Linked DNA regions of Homo sapiens: all the other regions are linked to region 3. Evidence: fine-mapped expression QTL. A gene starts in region 3. Each other region holds a variant in brackets. All regions are shown on one strand. Distances are from middle to middle.

What was found. PIP is the estimated chance that this variant, and not a neighbour inherited with it, causes the effect.
Region 1: its variant is the best candidate, but not a certain one, in a credible set for the expression of DMXL2 in lung (TOPMed, PIP 0.58).
Region 2: its variant is the best candidate, but not a certain one, in a credible set for the expression of DMXL2 in whole blood (TOPMed, PIP 0.50).
Region 4: its variant is the best candidate, but not a certain one, in a credible set for the expression of DMXL2 in whole blood (INTERVAL, PIP 0.79).

The regions. Positions count from the first base shown.
Region 1 is chr15:51,422,399-51,427,550 of GRCh38, reverse strand. No RefSeq gene overlaps it. Among named protein-coding and RNA genes, the nearest start is that of GLDN, 83 kb to the right of the region's middle. The variant T/C (reference allele first, on the strand shown) is at 2,423.
Region 2 is chr15:51,551,913-51,557,064 of GRCh38, reverse strand. All of the region lies in intron 6 of DMXL2 (Dmx like 2), which reads left to right. Among named protein-coding and RNA genes, the nearest start is that of DMXL2, 68 kb to the left of the region's middle. The variant G/T (reference allele first, on the strand shown) is at 2,155.
Region 3 is chr15:51,620,622-51,625,773 of GRCh38, reverse strand. It overlaps DMXL2 (Dmx like 2), which reads left to right and starts at 3,003. Exons shown (of 44, transcript NM_001378457.1): 1 at 3,003-3,315. The coding sequence starts at 3,229. It overlaps LOC105370816 (a long non-coding RNA gene), which reads left to right. Exons shown (of 5, transcript XR_932236.3): 4 at 488-599; 5 at 949-1,090. RefSeq lists a silencer at 2,866-3,085 and an enhancer at 3,456-3,865.
Region 4 is chr15:51,456,352-51,461,503 of GRCh38, reverse strand. DMXL2 (Dmx like 2) reads left to right here. Exons shown (of 44, transcript NM_001378457.1): 34 at 1,844-1,906; 35 at 2,709-2,795; 36 at 2,877-2,998; 37 at 4,038-4,176; 38 at 5,135-5,152. Among named protein-coding and RNA genes, the nearest start is that of GLDN, 120 kb to the right of the region's middle. The variant A/C (reference allele first, on the strand shown) is at 2,266.

The sequences.
Region 1 (5,152 bases), 200 kb after region 3:
TTAAAAGGCCTTCATGTTTTTTTATTCTCTCCTAGGGCCTTGTCCTTGTTTTGAGCAAAAGTTTTTTTCTTCTAGTTGACTGAATTCTGTTTTCTCCATATACTTCTGCTGTCTCTTCTTTCTCTTGCACCCTCTGCTGCATGAGGGAACTAAAATAATTTATAATAGCCTGGGGTTCCTTAAAGAAAATGGAGAAGGTACCAGACTCCCTTTCGGGGAGGAACCTGTTTTTCTTTATGGAACCCCAAGATTGTGAATAGACAAGTTCATCTCAGCTTTTAAGCTGCTTTTGTATTGTGTTACCTGATTAACTAAAGTAATTATTGCAACAGAGGCTATACTTGGGTTTTTAAATTAGAGTGTAATATAGACACTTAGAAATGCCTTTGTTTAAAAAATTTTAAGTGCATTGTAACATCATGTGATCTAGCCTCATAACGATTCTCCCTTTTTGGAAACCCACGATTCAGTGTGGGTTCTGCCTAAAGTTTAGAGATATAGTTAAAAGATAGGTAGTCCCTGGCCGGGCGTGGTGGCTCACGCCTGTAATCCCAGCACTTTGGGAGGCCGAGGCAGGCAGATCACGAGAGGTCAGGAGAGCAAGACCATCCTGGCTAACACAGTGAAACCCCGTCTCTACTAAAAAATAGAAAAAAATAGCTGGGCGTGGTGGCAGGTACCTGTAGTCTCAGCTACTTGGGAGGCTGAGGCAGGAGAATGGCATGAACCTGGGAGGCAGCGCTTGCAGTAAGCCGAGATCGCGCCACTGCACTCCACCTGGGTGACTCAGCGCGACTCCGTCTCAAAAAAAAAAAAAAAAAAAAAAAAAAAAAAAAAAAAAAAAAAAAAAAAAGATAGGTAATCCCTGTCTAAATATAATTGGTCTCCTTTTACAATCATATGATAGATTTTTATAATTTTATGTTTGATTTGACATCCATCTTTAATCTCCCTCTAGCACACCAGTTTTTCTCTCTGTACCTTATGATGTAAATTTTGCTATTTGATTTTCACCTTGTTTCCTTTAATATGCAAATTTAAGGCTATTTACCTGACAACTGCCTAGGGTTGTGAAAGAGGTTATGAAGAATCTGAAAGTCTAAGATAGAGGGAAAAAGGTTTTTATGAATCTATAAATTGTACTTTTATCGGCATTCCTAATACATCTATGTATTTAAGTGTTGTGTACACAATGTTTCACTACTGAAAATATATAGAAGAGCTCTAATTGGCTTTAAAAAATAAAAGTGCCTAAATCAAATACTTTATCTTAAAGGAAAAACTGGTCAAATCCTTTTTCAAATTTACATGACTTAAGTAAAATCTTAATAAGCTAGCTTTAAAATTATTGATCAATATCGGAAATGTCTTAAGAATTGCCAGCAGATGTATTTGTTTACATTTATTAATCAAGCAGTTTCATACTTATCCTTGCCAAATATTATAAGGTATCAACATTTGGCATAAGGGTTACAAAACTATCAACAGCCCCAAACAGAATGATCTTTGCTTGTGTAATTTTTAATAAGACATTAATATTGGTTTAATGAAAATAGCTACATCTTGAATTTAGTAAAATTATCTTAACTTCTAATCCTGTGGCCTTAGGCAGTCGAGTACACAGGCAGTAAGGTGGTTTGCCTTGGGAAAGGACTGTTATCCTTTTTGTATCAAGCTAAACTATAAACTAAGCCCTTCTCAAAGTTAGTTTGGCCTATATCCAGGAATGAACAATGACAGCTTGAGGTTAGAAGCAAGACAGTCATTTAGGGCAGATCTTTTTCACTGTCTCAGTTATAATTTTGCAATGACAGTTTCATAGCTTTATTTATAAAAACTGCATAGTCATCATTTAATCTAAGTAAATGATTAAAATAATTAGGTAAATGTATGGGATAAATACTTGTAGATAAACTTGTTATAGTTTAGAATCTAAGGTTATATTAAATAACATATTTCATTATTTGAGTATTTTCCTACACAAATATATTGTAGAAAAACATTCTTACTAAAAAAAGTGTCCTTTTAAAAAGGCAAATAATTTTTGTCTAATTCAAAGCTGATTTAAAGGTTATATATGAAACAAGTTAAAAGGAACCAGGAAATATGAAAGATGTAAAGAAAATTATAAAAGTAAAGAGTTTTGGTGGGTAAGAAAGCTTAAAGATCGATAATTTTATGTAAGAACAAAATATTGTATGGTAAATTTAGTCCCAGAATAAAATGACTGGTTAAGAAAGAAGATTGTTCAGGACAAACCAGAAAGTCTAACCATGTCATGAATGGTCTATGTAAATCACAATAAGAGGATTTATTTAAAAAAACCAAAAACTTATAAGATCAAGTTGTTTTTCATTAAAAAAAAGTATAATGGTCATTCTAGAGATTGGGCCTGATGTAAAAAAAATTTAGTTGAGGTTAT[T/C]ACATCTGTGTATCTTTCTGTACATGCTTTTAAAGTCCTTGTTACAGTGAGTTACAGGGCTTTGACCCCTGGGTCTAAAAAGGACATCAAGTCCTGCCAAATCTTAAACACTGACAGCAATTAAATCCTCACCTTCAGGCCCCACAGAGGATGTCAATCAAAACAAACTGCATTCCTATGGTGACGTCAATCAAAATAAACAGCATTCCTAAGACACAGGGCCAGAAATTAAAGCTATTCAACTCAAGGCCCAGGGGCATCATGGAAGAAGTGGGCACAGAAGATTGTAAGGGCCAATTTTGAAAGATAACTTCAGTTTCTCTATTATATAGAAATCATTAATGTCAAAGGCACTCTGATGCAAGACCAGTGTATGGGCCCCTGTGTCAGATTAACAAGGTTTTCTTGAAGCATTAACCAACTTCTTAATAAAGGATATAAATGTTATAAAAGGCTTATGGAAGTTGTTTCTTATGGTCAAGATTAAAATTTTATAGGTAGTTTATAAAATTTTGAAAAACAAATTTAATTGGCTGCATGCTGTTTTTATTAGGGCTTATTGTTTGGAAAATTAAGTCTCCTCCAAAAAAAATGAAGGTTTTTGCCTTTTAAAAAAAACCCTTGAGTTATTACTTTGGTTAAATGAATGATCCTATTTTGTGATAACAAGAGTTTTAAACCTTTGATAGTTGAAAACTTTCCAAGATCAAATTATAAATTATGTCTTTTTCTGGCCTAATTAATCCTTTAAGATATTAGGTTCCCAAAAGTCCTAAAATGACATAGTTTGGCTTATTTGGTATAAAATTGTACAGGAAACATTGTCAAATATGAAATGGTGTTTGGTTTTCTTTGAGCTGTATTTGTATAGTTATGTTATTGGTATGTGTTCCAAAATTACGGGAAACTCCTATAATTCTGATATAATACAGTATACATTATCAGTAATAATTATGTTAAATTATTGTGTGCCATAGAGGTAACAAATTTTCTTGTCAATTGTGTGTTTGACTATGGCTGCCCTAAATCTTTTTGTCATCCATGGACAACTGTCATCTTGTTTTAGTCCTCTTTGGGAGGTGGTTTTATAATCAGCTATAAAATTCTAACAGGTACTCTGAAATGCAGGTTTCTGATAACTTTGGAGATTGTGACATCAGAATAGAGGCAAAAACTTTCAGGACTCATGGAGAGCTGAAATGTTCATGAATATCAAGCAGTACAGGAATTAACTGCATGAACTAAACTAATACAAGTCTAAAAGTAGTAATCTTTTTAACTTTTTGCTTAAAACGTTGTTGATCCTTTGTTTTTCTGAGTCAAGAAAACTTTTCTTCTAAGCTATTTACAGCTTTTAGTAATTAAAGTATACCCCTATAAACAAAATTTGGAGCATATTTGTTTCTCTCTACCTGATTTCTACAATATTTGAAAACCATGTGTGAGTATTCTTAAGACAATACCATTATTCACATAAGTGCAATAACAATCGGTTTTCATTTGTAACAGGACACAATTGGAGAAAGTGGTTATTACCAAGGCTGTGACTGGAATGGTGTGCTTTCCTTGAAGGAATCAAACTTGACTTACAATTCCAATGAAGGTCCCTTGGAAAAACTGGCCTCATATCTTTATCTACACAGTCCCTGTACAGGGTTCCTGACTGTGGTAAGTAAAAAATGTCACTATTTGACAGGCCCAGGGGCTCCAAGTTTATCAAGAAACTTGAAGAGGAGAGGAGTTCACCCAACTTATAAGTACTTCATGGTACAAATCTATGGCTGCGCTGGGCTTTAAAAAAAAGTCTTGTCTGAGATTCCTACCATGGAACAAGGTTCCATCAAAGCCAATTTAAAAGCCTATGTAAAAAATAATTATTCTTGGGGAGGAGCCAAGATGGCCGAATAGGAACAGCTCCGGTCTACAGCTCCCAGCGTGAGCGACGCAGAAGACGGGTGATTTCTGCATTTCCATCTGAGGTACCGGGTTCATCTCACTAGGGAGTGCCAGACAGTGGGCGCAGGCCAGTGTGTGTGCGCACCGTGCGCGAGCCGAAGCAGGGCGAGGCATTGCCTCACCTGGGAAGCGCAAGGGGTCAGGGAGTTCCCTTTCCGAGTCAAAGAAAGGGGTGACGGACGCACCTGGAAAATCGGGTCACTCCCACCCGAATATTGCGCTTTTCAGACCGGCTTAAGAAACGGCGCACCACGAGACTATATCCCACACCTGGCTCAGAGGGTCCTACGCCCACGGAATCGCGCTGATTGCTAGCACAGCAGTCTGAGATCAAACTGCAAGGCGGCAACGAGGCTGGGGGAGGGGCGCCCGCCATTGCCCAGGCTTGCTTAGGTAAACAAAGCAGCCGGGAAGCTCGAACTGGGTGGAGCCCACCACAGCTCAAGGAGGCCTGCCTGCCTCTGTAGGCTCCACCTCTGGGGGCAGGGCACAGACAAACAAAAAGACAGCAGTAACCTCTGCAGACTTAAGTGTCCCTGTCTGACAGCTTTGAAGAGAGCAGTGGTTCTCCCAGCAAGCAGCTGGAGATCTGAGAACGGGCAGACTGCCTCCTCAAGTGGGTCCCTGACCCCTGACCCCCGAGCAGCCTAACTGGGAGGCACCACCCAGCAGGGGCACACTGACACCTCACACAGCAGGGTATTCCAACAGACCTGCAGCTGAGGGTCCTGTCTGTTAGAAGGAAAACTAACAACCAGAAAGGACATCTACACC
Region 2 (5,152 bases), 69 kb after region 3:
TTTCCTTTTTTTTTTAACTGCAGTGTCTAGGACCTCTAGCAGAGTGCTGAATAAACGTGGTGACAACAGGTCTATCTTTTTCTTGTTCCCAGTCTCAAAGGGATACCCTTCACTGTGTCATCATAAATATAATGTTTACTGTTGATGTTTGTGGTAGATACTTTTTTTTCAGATAAAGAAACTTTCCTTCTATTTGTTGTTTGCTAGATTGTTTTTCTAAACCACAAACGATATAGAATTTTAGGAAGCATTTTTTCTGCATCTAATGAGACAATTTTTATCTTTTTTTTTTGGAGACAGAATCTCGCTCTGTCACCCAGGCTGGAGTCCAGTGGCACAATCTCAGCTCACTGCAATCTCAGCTTCCCAGGTTCAAGTATTTCTCCCATTTCAGCTTCCCAAGTAGCTGGGACTACAGGCACCCATCACCATGCCGGTTAATTTTTGTATTTTTGGTAGAGATGAAGTTTCACCATTTTGTCCAGGCTGGTCTCGAACTCCTGACCTCAGATGATCCACCTGCCTCGGCCTCCCATACTGCTGGGATTACAGGCATGAGCCACTGTGCCCGGCCATCTTTTTAATTTTTTAATAAGATGAAATACATGGACTGATTTTGTAAACCTTGTATTCCTGGAACAATCCCAACTTCATTATAATGTGTTATCCTTGCTGGATTTGATCTGCTGATCTTTTTTTTTTTTTTTTTCTTTTTTTTTTTTGAGACAGTGTCTCGCTCTGTCACCCAGGGTGGAGTGCAGTGGCGCGATCTCGGCTCACTGCAAGCTCTGCCTCCTGGGTTCACGCCATTCTCCTGCCTCAGCCTCCCAAGTAGCTGGGACTACAGGCGCCCGCCACCACGCCCAGCTAATTTTTTGTATTTTTAGTAGAGACGGGGTTTCACCGTGTTAGCCAGGATGGTCTCGATCTCCTGACCTCGTGATCCACCTGCCTTGGCCTCCCAAAGTGCTGGGATTACAGGCGTGAGCCACCGCGCCCGGCCTGATCTGCTGATCTTTTGTTTAAGATTTATGTGTTAGAGTGAGATTCGGCCAATAATTTTCCCGTTTTCATAATGTCCTTGACAGATTTTTATGTTGATGTTATGCTGGCCTTATAAATGGGTTGGAAAGCTCTCTTTTGTGAAGAGTTTATGTAAGATTGATATAGTTTTATTCTTAAGTATTTGCTGGTGAAGCCATCTGGATCAGGAATTTTCTTTGTAGGATTCAGTTTTTTAAATTATTCAGATTTTCTTTTTCTTTTGTATGTCAGTTTTGGTAAGTTGTATTTACCTATGATTTTTCAGTTTTATTTAGATTTTCAAATTTATTAGCACAAAATTGTGTAAAACACCTTATCTTTTAATATCTATAATACATGTATAGTGATTTCTTCTTCAGTTTTGATATTATTTATGCCTTCCCTCTTTCTTCATTCATCTCACCAAGAGTTTATCAATTTTGTAGGTCTTTTTACTGCCCTAAAAGTCTTCTGTACTCTGCCTGTTTTTAACTCTGGCTACCCCTGCTTAGTTGTTACTGTTATCTTTTCTACTTTTAAATGTTGGAGTGCCCAGGGCTCTTCTAGTCTTAAGATTTCTGATGCCATTTAAATGCCATTTTTGTATGCTGATGACATTCAACTTTGTATTTTTTGCCTGTACCTCTTCCCTGATCTCTACTTCCCTAACCCCTCAATCTACTCCCTGATGGCTCACCTTTAGAATATATCCACAATCTGCTTACTTCTTTACCACCTCCACTCTTATAATCTGGTTGAAGCCACCATTATTTATCACTTGTATTATTGTATTAAATTTTTAATTGGTTTCCCAATTTTTGCTGCACTTCTGTACAATCTATGTTCAAACCAGCAGGTGGAGTGATTTAAAAAATTGTTTTTTTGAGACAGAGTCTCTCACTGTCGCCTAGGCTGGAGTGCTGTGGCGCAATCTTGGCTCACTGCAACCTCTGCCTCCTGGGTTCAAGCAATTCTTGTGCCTCAGCCTCCCAAGTGACTGGGATTACAAGCGTGTGCCACCACACCTGGCTAATTTTTGTATTTTTAGTAGAGACGGAGTTTCGTCATGATGGCCAGGCTGGTCTCGAACTCCTGGCCTCAAGTGATCTGCCCACCTTGGTCTCCCAAAGT[G/T]CTGGGATTATGGGTGTGAGCCACTGTTCCTGGCCTGGAGTGATCTTTTTAAAATGTTGTCAGATCTTGTCACTCTTCTTTTGTACAAAACCGTCAAAAGCTTTTCCATTTCATTTACCAAAAGACCAAGTCTTCGTGATGGTTTAGCATGCTCCATGCTTACCAGGACTCTCGTCACTGCTTCAACCTCATCTTCTGCTAACTCTCACCCCTGCACACTCCACTCCATCTAATTTGCCTCATTGTTTTTAAACTAGATTTTAAAAATAAAACACTGAAATTTTGATAAGCCAGTTCAATAATCTACAAATAATAAAACAGTATTTCTGGATAGAAATGTAGAGACACGTGAAGAATTTTCTGTAATGTCTTGAGAAGCGTGGGTATCTCATGAAGGGTACACTTGTCAGAATCACTGGAAAAACAGTTTGAGAAATAATATAATTCATGTCTTTTTTTCCTTTTTAATTTTATTTTACGTAATTCATGTCTTGATCTCTAAAACAGGCAGTCACCTTTAAAACTTTGGATCTTTAAAAACAAATACCCCATTACTCCTAAAATTTGACTGAAAAAACTCACAGATTTGTCTTTTTTTTGTTACTCATATTTCTTAGGATTACCACGTTAATAAGTGATTAATAAAGCCAGTCATTCCTTTGACTTAACAAATCCATAATAGGTGAACCTATGGATGATTTAATATAGGACCAGTTCAGCATGTCAGAGAGCTGCTGGAGAGTCATACTGGAATCCAGCTTTATGATATTCCCAGTTAATCATTGCTGATGTCAGCTTGGATATTGTACACACTGTGCATCATTTGGAGCATGTTTTCCTATTGCCTCCTTTTAAATATCGTTAATGGCACTATGATCATGGATAGGTATTGTATACACTTAAGTTTTCCTTGACTCATGTACAGTTAACCCTTGAACAACATGGCAGTTAGGTGATCCAACCCCCTGCACAGTCAAAAATCCCTGTCTAACTTTTGAGTCTCCAGAAACTTAATTACTAATAGTCTACTATTGACTGGAAGCTTTTCCAATAAAATAAACAATAAATTAACACATTTTGTATGTTATAGGTATTGTATACTCTACTCTTTTTTTTTTTTTAAACCCTGCATGTGGCATCCAATATGTGCTATACTCTTTTAAGGAAGAGAAGAAAAATGTTACTAAGAAAACCTTAAGGAAGAGAAAATAAATTAACCGTTCATTAAGTGGATGTAGATGGTCATAAGGTCTTCATCCTCATCATTTTCACATTTAGTAGGTGAGAGAGGAGGAAGAAGAGGAGGGGTTGGTCTTGCTGTCTTGGGTGGCAGAGGCAGAAGAAAATTCACGTGTAAGTGGACCTGTGCAGTTCAAACCCATGTTATTGAAGGGTCAACTGTACTTTAACATATATATTGTTTGATTTTTTTTTATCATATAACGGGGCAAAGAAAATGCATTTTAGAATTCTAGCAATCTGCACTTGTGAGACACATGAGAATCTTTTATAGTTGTATTCATATCATAATAGACTTTATATACGTAAAATTGATAGTGCATTTTGGACAAAAAGTTGATTTGAAATTATATCTGAAATTAACAACCTTCATTCACATGTTTAGCAGATATTCTTTTGAACACCACCATATACCCTGAACTGTTGTGTGTGCTGGCAGTCTTATGATGAAGATGATAGACAAGGCTTTTGTTCTTATAGGACTTAATTTCTGGTGAGGAAAGACAGAAAAAAATATCAAGTATTAACAAGTGCTGTCCAGAAAATTAAGACAGGATGATATAGTAGTGTGATTGGGTGTCTGTTAGAGTGAGTGATCTATAGAGAAAGCTTTGCTGAGGAGATAACCTTTAAACTGAGAATTGAATACTACGAAGGAGACAACTGTGAAGTTCAGGGGAAAGAGTGTTTTTGGCCAAGGGAACAAACACCAAGTGCAAATGCTCTGAAATAGGAATTAGCAGGGCTTGTTAAAGAGCAACAGAAAGCTGGAGTGTAGTGGTTAGACCAAAGTTTGAGATGCATCTGAGTTAACATATCAGATAGGATAAGACAGTCAGGAGTTCTCTGGCAATTTGAATTCTTTAGCCAAAGGCGGTGTTTAAAGTTATGGGTCTGGATGAAATTAACTAGGGAGAACGTGTGTATTAGAGAAGAGAATGGGACTCAGGATCAAATCCCAGGATCCTCAAACATTAAGAAATGATAGAGAGAGGGGAGATACCTACAAAGGATGCTGGGAAGGAGTAACCACTGAAATAAAACGAAAACCAGGAGAATGTGACATTAGAGAAGCCAAGAAAAAAGGTTCAAGGAGGGAATGTCAGTTAATTTTGTCAAAAGACCTAGAACACATGGGAGAACAGTTAAACATCTGTAGATAGTACAGGCCTAACTGTGCGTAAATTAAAGCAAAGAAACTTTTGTGGAATCATAAAGTTTTAATGATCTTAGTGATCACAGAAGCAGCTAAGGTTTTTGAAGTCCATGTCTCTGCCCTCCACTGCCACTACCTGTGTCAGCATCTTCGGGGCTGCAGACCTTTACAGTAGTCTCTTAAGTGATGTCCTGCAAACATCCTCTGATTGGTCTGCCCACAGGAGCCAGCCACCTGAACATGCCGTTCTCCTTTTCACCACCTTTTAATGACTCCTATTGCTCCTAAAATGAAGATTATGATCTTTACCATGGCCTGTGAGGCTCTGCTGTATGATCTGGCCCTTCCGTGCCTCTCCAGCTTCATTCCCACCTTAATGCCTACGACACTGATGTCCTTTCAAGGCCTTGAATATGCCAAGCTCTTTCCTGCTTCCACGTCTTTTTATGTGCTGTTCCCTCTGTCTAGGGAATACCTACAATACCCAGACTTCCTTATTCTTTACCTGGTCGTCTTTTATGTATCCTTCAACTCTCAGTTTAAATACCACTTGCTTAAGAAATCCTCTGATCTCCCAGGCAAGGTCAAGTCTCCTTATTAAAT
Region 3 (5,152 bases):
CTTGCTGCTGGAGCAGTCAGCCGCCGTGTCTTGAGGACACTCACACAGCACTATGGAGAGGAACACATAGGAACTGAGGCCTCCATCTATCTATTAGGCTCAACTTGCTAGCCATGAGAGCCTGCCATCTTGGAAGCAGGGCCTTTAACTTCAGTCAAGACTTCAGATGACTGTATCCCTGGCTATTTCTTTTTTAGATAGCTTTATTGAAAGTATAATTTAATTACCATACAATTCACTAATTTCAAGTATACAATTCAATGATTTCTAGTAATTTTACAGAACTGCCCAACCATGACCACAATCTAATTTTAGAATGTTTATCTCATGCCAAAAAGAAACCTCATATCCATTAGCAGTCACTCTCAGTTCCACCTTCAGCCCCAGGCAACCACTAACCTATTTTCTGTGACTGTAGATTTGTCTTTTCAGAAAATTTCATACAAATGATTTCATACAAACGAATTATGTGGTCTTTTGTGTCCAGCTTCTTTTATTTAGCATGTAGCTGACATTTTGATTGCCATCTCATGAAAGACTCTGAACCAGAACTTTCCTGCTAAGCTACTACTAAATTATTGATTCACAGAAACTGTGAGGTAATGAATCTCTACTGTTATTTTTGGCTGATAAATTTTGGGGTAATTTATTGCACAGTAATTGATAACTAGTACACATCGGTAGGTGATACTGCTGGGAAACTAAGTCCCACATTTAATGGCACACATTCAATGGGCCATTAAACCCAACCCCAAAGGTACTATTAAGAGTTGTGTTGGGATCTCAAATCAAAGCAAAAAGAAAAAAAAAAGAGTTGTGGACATGATAAATTATATCTTACAATTCGATTAGCATATTTTGTTAATGATACAAAACTGCTACTTTTTCTAATTTTTAAAAGAAAGCCCTTTCCAAAATTAGAAGAAAGAATTTCCAATTTGTTTTTAGGTCCATGAAAAAATTTGCATGAACAAGGAAGAGATGAAATTGTGGACAGTCAAAAGTGTGGTCTAGCTGCCCTGGTGGGCTACCAAGGAAACTTGCCATATTAGTCTGGAGTGAGTTTTGACTGATCAGATTGGACAATAAAAGGCTCAGCTGTAATTCCAGGAGACTTAATTAGTCATTTGCAACCTTAAGATACAGCTATCAAGAAGCCATTTAAAGGATTCATGAGGGAAGAGAACAGGTGGATACAGGCTTCAGATTTTGAGTTTGATACCGAGAGGAAGAAAGAGGCTCACAACTTCACAACTGTGTGAATGGGCCAAAACTTCATGGAATGCTGTAAAACAAGAGCCAAATGTGAAATGGTTTAAATAATGTGAATTAGTAACACTCTTGGAAACCTGAGTACAATTTGTTGTTTGATGATAGTTTTGACTTGGTTTCTAATGCAGTGAAGGTCAAAGATTAAGAGACTCATCTAGAATCTAGTAGTAACAAAAAGGAACCCTTGGATATGGCGCGGGGGAAGGGAGGAAGGGGGGGGGAGGGAAGGGGAGGGAGGGGGGAGAGAGAGAAAGAGAGAGAATGCCGCAGGTCATTAGGTATTATTTTTCATTCCTCCTGCAACTTTCTACTGAAAAGATTACCAACGACTGACAGATCTTTGCCTCCAATCTTCCCCACCCTTCCCTTTATGCTTCAAAATGCTACAAAGTCATCTTCCCAAAGCAGCTCTGATTATATAAATTTTTGCTCAGAAACATCTGATATACCCCCACTGCATGCAGAGTGAAATCTGGGCTTCTTGGAGCATTCAAGACTCTCCATAATATGTTTTGGTAGGCCAAGAGTTAGACCACTTGGATACCTTGATCTCTTGCTAAGTATTATTTACTTTCCCTACCCTATAAATCATCTGCCTCAAACATTAATCTTTGTACCTTCAACACCCCCTCTATTTTCTGTACTGTATTTGCAGCATTTCTTGTCTATCTCAGCCTGTCAAAATTAAACTCAGCGTTTATGTCAGGTTATGTCTCCATAATGCCTTATCCACGCCCTTAGTCAACATTCTTCTTCCTCTTCTGTGGTGCATAAAGACTTTTATATCTCAATCACACCACCTTTGGCGTTCTGCCTGGTTTTACAGATAGTTATGTCTTGGTGTCCCCTACTTCCTTACCCTGTGATTTAAGCATAGTATGGGTTAGAACATTTGCCATGAATTGGCCTGTGGCAGGGAGCTGATGATCCTTGTTATCAACCATTCAAAGTTTAGCAGATAGTTTGGAAAATCAGGCGATTCTGCTAATTCATGAAATTACTCATGAAAAAAAGTCGAAAGGAGTCACCCGTCTCTAAGGCGGCTTTTTGCTGTCTAGAATAACCGTGACAAAAGGTGGGAGCAAAATAATTAGCTTTCAGGGGAGTATGGCTTCTCTAAATAGTTGCAAGATGCCTACATTGTTTATGTAAAATAAAATATCTTATGTACTGCACTTTCGAAAAGACTGAAGATATCTAAGATATCTCCAGGTGGAAATTCCCGGTGACGGGTGTCCTTCTGAGGTCAACGGCACTGACCATTGCACACTGTATTCTGGAATACGTTCAACACAGCAAAACCGGCTCGTGGCGCGTCCCCGGCGTCCGACTGCTGCGTGGCCCCGAGCGACCTGCACCCCACTCGCCCCCGCCCCCACCTCCGCCCCAGTCCGCAGCGGCTACAGCCCGGGAGGCTCCAAGGGAACTCCCGCACGTCTGCGCGCGCAATCACGGGACGGCGGGTCGGCGTGGCGCGCGCAATTGCCCTGGAAACCACGGCGCGCGCACGCGCAAACGCGGGTGATGGGGGGAAGAAAGACTGAGCTGAGAGCTTTGCCGCGGGGGGAGGGCTCTACCTCGCTCCCCCGCGGTGGGCGCGCGCGCTGGCCCGCTCCCTTGCTGCACGCTCCCGGCTCGCGCGTTCCCCCCGGTGCCCTCCCCCGCCTCACAAGCACCCTTGCCCTCCCGCATTTGTGCGCCGGTGCAGCAGGCAGTGGGAACATCCGGGCATTTCCGCAGCTGAGCGGCGACCCGGGCGGCGGCGGCGGTCGAGGAGCTCCCATGGCAGGGACGAGGCGGAGGGAAGGCGAAAGGGGGGCGAGGAGTTAAGCCAGAGCCTCCGCGGGGCGGGTTTCCGAGGGAGGCACAGAGGGAAACGGCTCTCGCAGCCCGAGGAGGGTCAGGCGCGGAGCTTGTCGCACCTCCCGCGCATTCTGTCCAGCCCGGGCTCCGGAGATGCATCTGCATCAGGTCCTCACCGGAGCTGTCAACCCTGGAGACAACTGCTACTCCGTGGGCAGCGTCGGGGATGTCCCCTTCACGGTGAGCGGCGGCCGGGAGCCCTAGGGGAAGATACCAGGGGCCAGACGCGGGGGCAGGGACCTCCTGTCCAGGGCGCACGCCTCCTCAGGAGGCTGTGAGATGTTGGTGGGCCCCACCCGTGGCCCCTTTGCAGCCTTGGGGTTTAGTTCCCCCTGGGACCCGTGGGACCGTGGGTCCTGCGTCTGGTGTAGGAAATCACCCGTTAGGGGAAAGGCTTAGGAATCCACCGCACTCTCCACCCCAAGCAAACGGGCCTGAGGTGACTGGACTAGAAGGCTCCTCCTAGGGCGGCCCTTCGGTCTGCGGTGGAGGAAAGTGGTGGTGCGGCTGAAACCCCAGAGCGTCCGTTTCGCAGCTGCTCTCGGCGTGGAGGCGAAGAGACTTGGTGTTGGTCTCGGAGCGTGGAGGTGAAGAGACTTGGTGTTGGTCTCGGAGCGTGGAGGCGATGCTGCGCCTTGGCTCCCCCTGCCCGCTGTGCTAGGGCAGCGAGGAGCTGCTGGAGTCTGTGGCTTTAAGCCTGACTCTGTATCTCCTGATAATGCAGGATCTTAATTCCAACAAAAAGATAGAAAAATTCATCCTCCGCGCCCGAAAGATTTAGAATGGAAAGGTTAGAGTCACAGTGGCTTGGAGAGCTGTCTCATTTATCAGGAGGTCGTAGTTTGGTAATCCTCCTAGATAATATTTTAATCTGTAAGGTAGCCTTTTTTTTAATATAGTAAGGCAATGTGAAAAATTTACAACAGTGCTTGTTTGAGAAAAGTGTATGTATACATAACGTTTTAGAATCTCCTTAAAAGCTAGATGAAGTAGACATGTTTCTCAAGGAGATTGGACTCATCAGTCCTTTTTGAGAGTGGAAATGTTTAAACCAAGCCTTGGAGCTTCGTTTACTCATAGATAGACTCCCATAAATTGAGTTCTTTTTTAAAGAATGAAATTTATACATGGTCTTCCTTATAAGGAACTGTAGGCAGCCAGACCTTTATTAAATATATTTTGTAAACTGTTCTTCTTGATAAAACTGGAAATTCCGTAATGGTATGCTTTTTAGACAAGGAAAACCCTTTGATGTCTGCTTTCCAACAGTGTTTTTAAAACTGCGGAAAATAAAGCTTCAGCAAAACTGCAGAATCATTATGTAGCAGTGCATTCTGGAACAGAATTTATTTTTTGACGTTTTGTGATACATTAACCCCAGAAGATTGCTTTTTAGCCATTTTAATTTTTTAGTGTAATCCACTTGGCCTAGCTCCAGTTTAGAACGACCCCTTTTGTCATCTGTGTTTTATGTACATGTGACTTAAAATATTCATATAGAGCTGAGCTTTGTCTTCAAGTGTGTGGAGAATCTTGGTTTTTGGGGATAGAGAGAAGAAATTTCCCTGTTCCCCAGTAGTGCAGATAGGAAGTTCCTCAGGGTTAGAAGAGTGGGCCTCTTTCATCAAGAAACAAAGCTGGAATCTTTGGTTATATTTTCCTGCTAGAATGGTGGTGGTAGTTTTCTGCTTCCATCTAAAGTGGAGTGCTGTCTCACGGCAGGTCTGGTATGTAGAACTAAATAAACGGGTTCAGATGCAGCCTGGAAAAGCCTGTGTAAGAACTGTTAGTGCTGTGCAGGTGTGGTTATGCTGTAGGCCACTTGTGACCAGATGCTTAGAGTCATTTTCAAATCTTCTTGCACTTCCCTAATTCAGCGTTTCACGAAGTCTAGTTGACTCTGCACTGTCTACCAGATTTACTCCTTTTCATATCCTTAACCACCACCTTATTTTACAATCTTATTGGTATTAATATAAAAGCTTTCAAAACTGTCATGTCCGATAACTTCTTCATC
Region 4 (5,152 bases), 160 kb after region 3:
ATCAATTTTCTGAGTGTTTTGTTCTTCAAATTATTAAAATTAATGATTTATCACAAGTATGTTTTAAGTATTGGTAAGGTTGATAGCAGCTTGACTGGTTGACTTGTCAGAGTGTAGAGTGCTGTGGGAAGCCAGGTGTCTGGGTTTCTTGGACCCTCCCATTCTCGTCTTGCCCTTCCCCACGAGTTTGCTTCTTCCTTAACTAATTCTCCCCCTCTCCGCCCCTTAGTCTCCCTTCCATTATGCCCCTCAGTCTCTGTGTGTTCTATTTTTCTTCCAGCAGTGGGTCCCCATGAACAGGGAAGTAGGACAGAGATAAACGGAATGTTTCTTAAAGTGCTATATAAGCATCAGTTGGCTCCAAGGAAGGGAAGTACATGGCTGGGAGTTAGGATGGAAGAATTTTTATCATGTACCCTTTTAATTTTAAAACATTGAATGGAATTACTGTCTTGTCCAGTACTGTCCCATAGAACTTTCTGTGATGATGGAAATCTGTATCTGCATAGTCCAACATAGTAGTCACCAGCCACATGTGGTTACTGAGTACTTGAAATGTGGCTAGCATGATTGAGAAACTGAATTTTAATTTTAATTGATCTAAATTTAAATAGTTACATATGGTTAGTGATTGCTGTTTTGAATAGCTCAGATCTGAAAAAAAAGGTGTTTTATTAAGAAAAAAATTATGAATAAAACATTAAGGCTGTTAGGACAAAATAAAAACTCGTCGTTAGGCTCAGAAATATGCAAAACTTACTAAAACTCTACCCAATCCAGTAAGAGTGCTTACATCTTTAAAATTGTCAAATAGGATTTTGGTAATCACTAAATTTGGCAAATTCAGAAAATTGACCAATAAAATTGGCAGGCTAATCCTAAAAATGCTGGGTGCATTTAAAAAAAATCCCTGAGAAATGCTGAAGTTATATATTTATAAGAATAAGATCTTTTATTCACTGAAGATATTACAGGAAAATATTTCACAAAACAAGTTTTTGGGAAACAGATTGGTGAATTCAGCTAGTTAAGACAAATAGATTCTTCAGCAGTTTGGCCTTCACTGAGTTAGCTGTGCCACACATTGACCATTCCTTGGAAGTTTTCTTGGATGCATCTTTATCAGCTGCAGCAGCCATAGGGGAGTCCCTGGAGGCATGGGCAGAAAATTTGAATGGCCCTTCGTGATGAAAGGAAGGCAGTCACCTGAAAAGGTATGAGGAAGAGTTTGTTTCTCTGATCAAACCTTCAGAGTTTCCACAGCAGAGCAGAAATATAACTTCTGATTGCAGCCATCCTTAGGACCCTGCATCAACCCGGGAGCAAATTACTGAGTTATTTCTTTTTCCGTGCCTGATTTTATTAAACATTTATTTACTTAGAGAAAAATCATCATATTCCTTATAAGAGTGAAATAATTATCAATATTTTGAATCTATGTTTAGAAATAAATATTTTAATTTGTATTTTAAATCAACCCCTATAGGGCAGGAATTTATGTAGCATCTTCTGCATCTGCTTATACAAATGGGCTTTAATTTTATAGATTACCAGTTATGTAACTTAGATTTCTTAAAACTGTATACAGATAACTAATTTTTATTTTGAAATAGCTTTTATGTTCTTGTGTTTATGTAATAGTCACATTAATTTTGCTCTTTTGGCTTTGTGTTGTGTTTATTTGATGACTGTTTTATTCGGTTTAATTTTTTCTTGATTTTGCAAATTCATTTTTATCATCTTTAAGTGGTGGAGTGGCCATTTCAGCTTGAAATATTTCACTGTCTTTATAATTTCATTCCATGCATGTGTTTTGTGTTTGTGACGGTGTGGTGGTATTTAGTCTATAGAAGAACATGTGGAGCAGGTCAACCAAAACTGCATAGCAGAAGATTGCCACATCAAGGTAGTATTCCAAGATCTTGTATTTAGCTCATTCTTTAAAGTTCAAGGAGCTAACGCCTCATCTCTGATACTAACCATGACCTGCCCAACTGGCTAACTACTCAGAGAACTCATAGTACTCCCATACCACTTCAGTGGCACAGGGGAGGAGATGCTTCACTGTATCTGGCTTGCTCTGTCTTGCCCTTGGTTCTTCTCTTTCTTGCTCCCTGTCCCATCTTCACTTGTCACTTTTTCTGTTTTAAGCATGGCTGTTTCATCTTCTTGATTCTGCCTTTTCTTTCCTTCCCATCACCAACCCTAAGCCATTGCATCTTCCTCTCATCAGTCTCTTTTATTCCTTTCGAAGTATCCCTCTTT[A/C]CAACTTTTCCTTATTTCTGTCTCACCACCCTTACTTCAAAGGGTGGTTTCTTTGCGGTTTTCTATGGCTTTTTACTCCACTCTGTGCCTCTTAATGTATACACATTCTTATTGCAGAATATTTATGCACTTTTGGAAGAGCTAAGAGAGACATACTACTGTATAAATTACTAATAAAAATATATTAGCCATGTTTTATAATTAATCAGTATCTTACCATCACAGTGGAAATTGGGGTGATTACAGGACATCAGAGAATTTAAGCAAATTTTCCAAAGCTAGTTTTCAACACATTAAAGTTACTCTTACCCTTTTTTCTTGCTGCTGCTGCTGCTGCTGCTGCTACATTTTCTTCTTATCCTACATTTAAATCTTATGGGATGTGCATAACTCTAAATAGAGCTGTGCTGCAGCAACTAAAACTGCTGATGAATGTTTTCTAGGTTGAAGCTGATCTGGGCTATCCAGGTGGAAAGGCGAAAGTCATCCATAAGGAATCTGATATGATCATGGCATTTTCTGTTAATAAGGTAAAAGCTCTCATCATTATACACAGTGTATTTCTCCTTAGTGAAATTGCTTAAATCATCGATTCTGCCTTTGCTTTATAGGCAAATTGTAATGAAATTGTTTTGGCTTCAACACATGATGTTCAAGAACTTGATGTTACTTCTCTACTGGCCTGTCAGTCATACATATGGATCGGAGAAGAATATGACAGAGAATCCAAAAGGTTTGTCTCATAGTCACTTTTACATATAGTTTTCTGTAAGAAGTACCCACCAAATGGTTATGCACATGATTTGAATTATTTCAAAAGGTATACGTGTATCTCCTTCATTTGGGTAGGTGACAAATATAATTGGTTTAGCTGCCAGTGAAAGTCTTTGTCTACATTAACTGAATGAATTACACTTCCATTAAACCCTACACTATTGATAATATTTCAATAAGGATAATCCCTAACACTTGGCTTCATGATATTCAGTAAATTAATCTGATCTGGATAATTAAAACAGTAGACACAAATATGTTAATTACACTGAGTCACATTTACCGAGTAATTTTGCAGTGTTTCTTCTTATCACCTGATAAGCATACCTTTTCTTAAACATAAAAATGTAGACGGCTTTACTTTTCATTGAAGCTATGGACACTGCACCAAGAGTGTTTTGCCATTCTTACCTATTTTGAGGTTTCTTCTTTGTGGTTTGCCTTCCCTCCTGCTTTTCTCCAGACTCTTAGAAATTGTTCATGCTTGAGGATGGTGCCATGATAGTTTCTCTCCTCATTTTGTTGAATTCTTTTTTTTGTTAGTATGTGATATAACTAGGATTTAATATCACATTTCAGAGTAGATATAACCATGTACTATGATACAATCCATCCCAACAATTACTTTCACATTTTATATGTCTTACTCCAAGAAATCTTTAAACTCAAATTTCTTTAAACGTGTTAATTTGATACTGAGCTATCTGTACTTGAAGAGAACATAATATTTTTCCATAGATAACAACAAACTTTTGTTTCAACTTGTGCAGCAATAAAGTTGTCCCCAAACAACATTAGACTAAATTTACATTTTGCCAAAAGGGAAAAAAGTTAACCAGTATTAACATTGGCGATTAGGACTTGTACCTAAGTTTTTCTCATGGCTACTTAGTTTTTAAAATAAAGATTGTCCTATGGGTACATAAGAAGATTTTTAGTTGGAATTTGTGTTAAGAGAAAAGGGAATGTTCACAGTAACACATGAATGTTTTTCACAGTTCAGATGATGTTGATTATCGTGGTTCCACTACAACTCTTTATCAACCCAGTGCAACATCCTATTCAGCAAGTCAGGTGCATCCACCTTCATCTCTGCCATGGCTGGGCACTGGACAGACTAGCACTGGAGCTAGTGTGGTATGTTATTTACTTATAGGTATCATTTCTGGATTTGGACTCTGAAAAATCAGTTGGAATCTCTTTGACATAGGAATGATCCTAAATTTCAGGGACAAACACCAGTAGATAGGCCATGATAATGACAGCTGACATTTATTGTGGCTTTTTTATTTGGTGACAGGGTCTGGCTCTGTCGCGCAGGCTGGAGTGCAGTGGTGCAATTTCGGCTCACTGCAGCCTTGACCTCCTGGGCTCAATTGATCCTTCCATCTCAACCTCCCAAGTAGCTGGGACTACAGGTGCATGCCAGCGTGCCTGGCTAATTTTTGTATTTTTTGTAGGGATGGGGTTTCACCACGCTGCCCAGGCTGTTCTCGAACTCCTGGGCTCAAGTGATCTACCCGCTTCAGCCTCCCAAGGTGCTAGGATTACAGGCATGAGCCACCACACTGGCCTCATATGACTTTCTTAGTGTCAGATACATGCTTTTTCTCACAACAATCCTAGGTGGTAGGTGCTATTATTACCCTCCATTATCATTTTACAGATGAATAAACAGATACAAAATGGTAAAGCAAAGTTAAAGGGGAATTCATGTCTACTTCTAAGTGCTTGAAAGCATGTCAGTAACATTCTTGTCACTGTAGCTGGAGGGGTCCCATTCTTATGTTCTGCTCTGAAGCATCTGGAGGTGCTCCTGAATATCCTCAGGGAGGGGCACTTGAAGAAGAGTTCCTTTATTATGAGATGAAGCTCCTTGGTAACCTCACAGGCCAGGGCTATACCAGCAAGTGACTGTGCTTCCTCACCCTCTTCAGACAAGTGTTCTATGTAGTGGTTCAGAACATCCATAACAGGCTTTATCTCAGTAATAAGCAAGGTGTAAGAGAATAAATGTCAGAATTTATCCTGAAGCATATCCTTCCTCATCTTTTCTGCATACACAAAATAAAATTTTTAAAATTTTCTTTTAAAGCTTATGAAAAGGAATCTA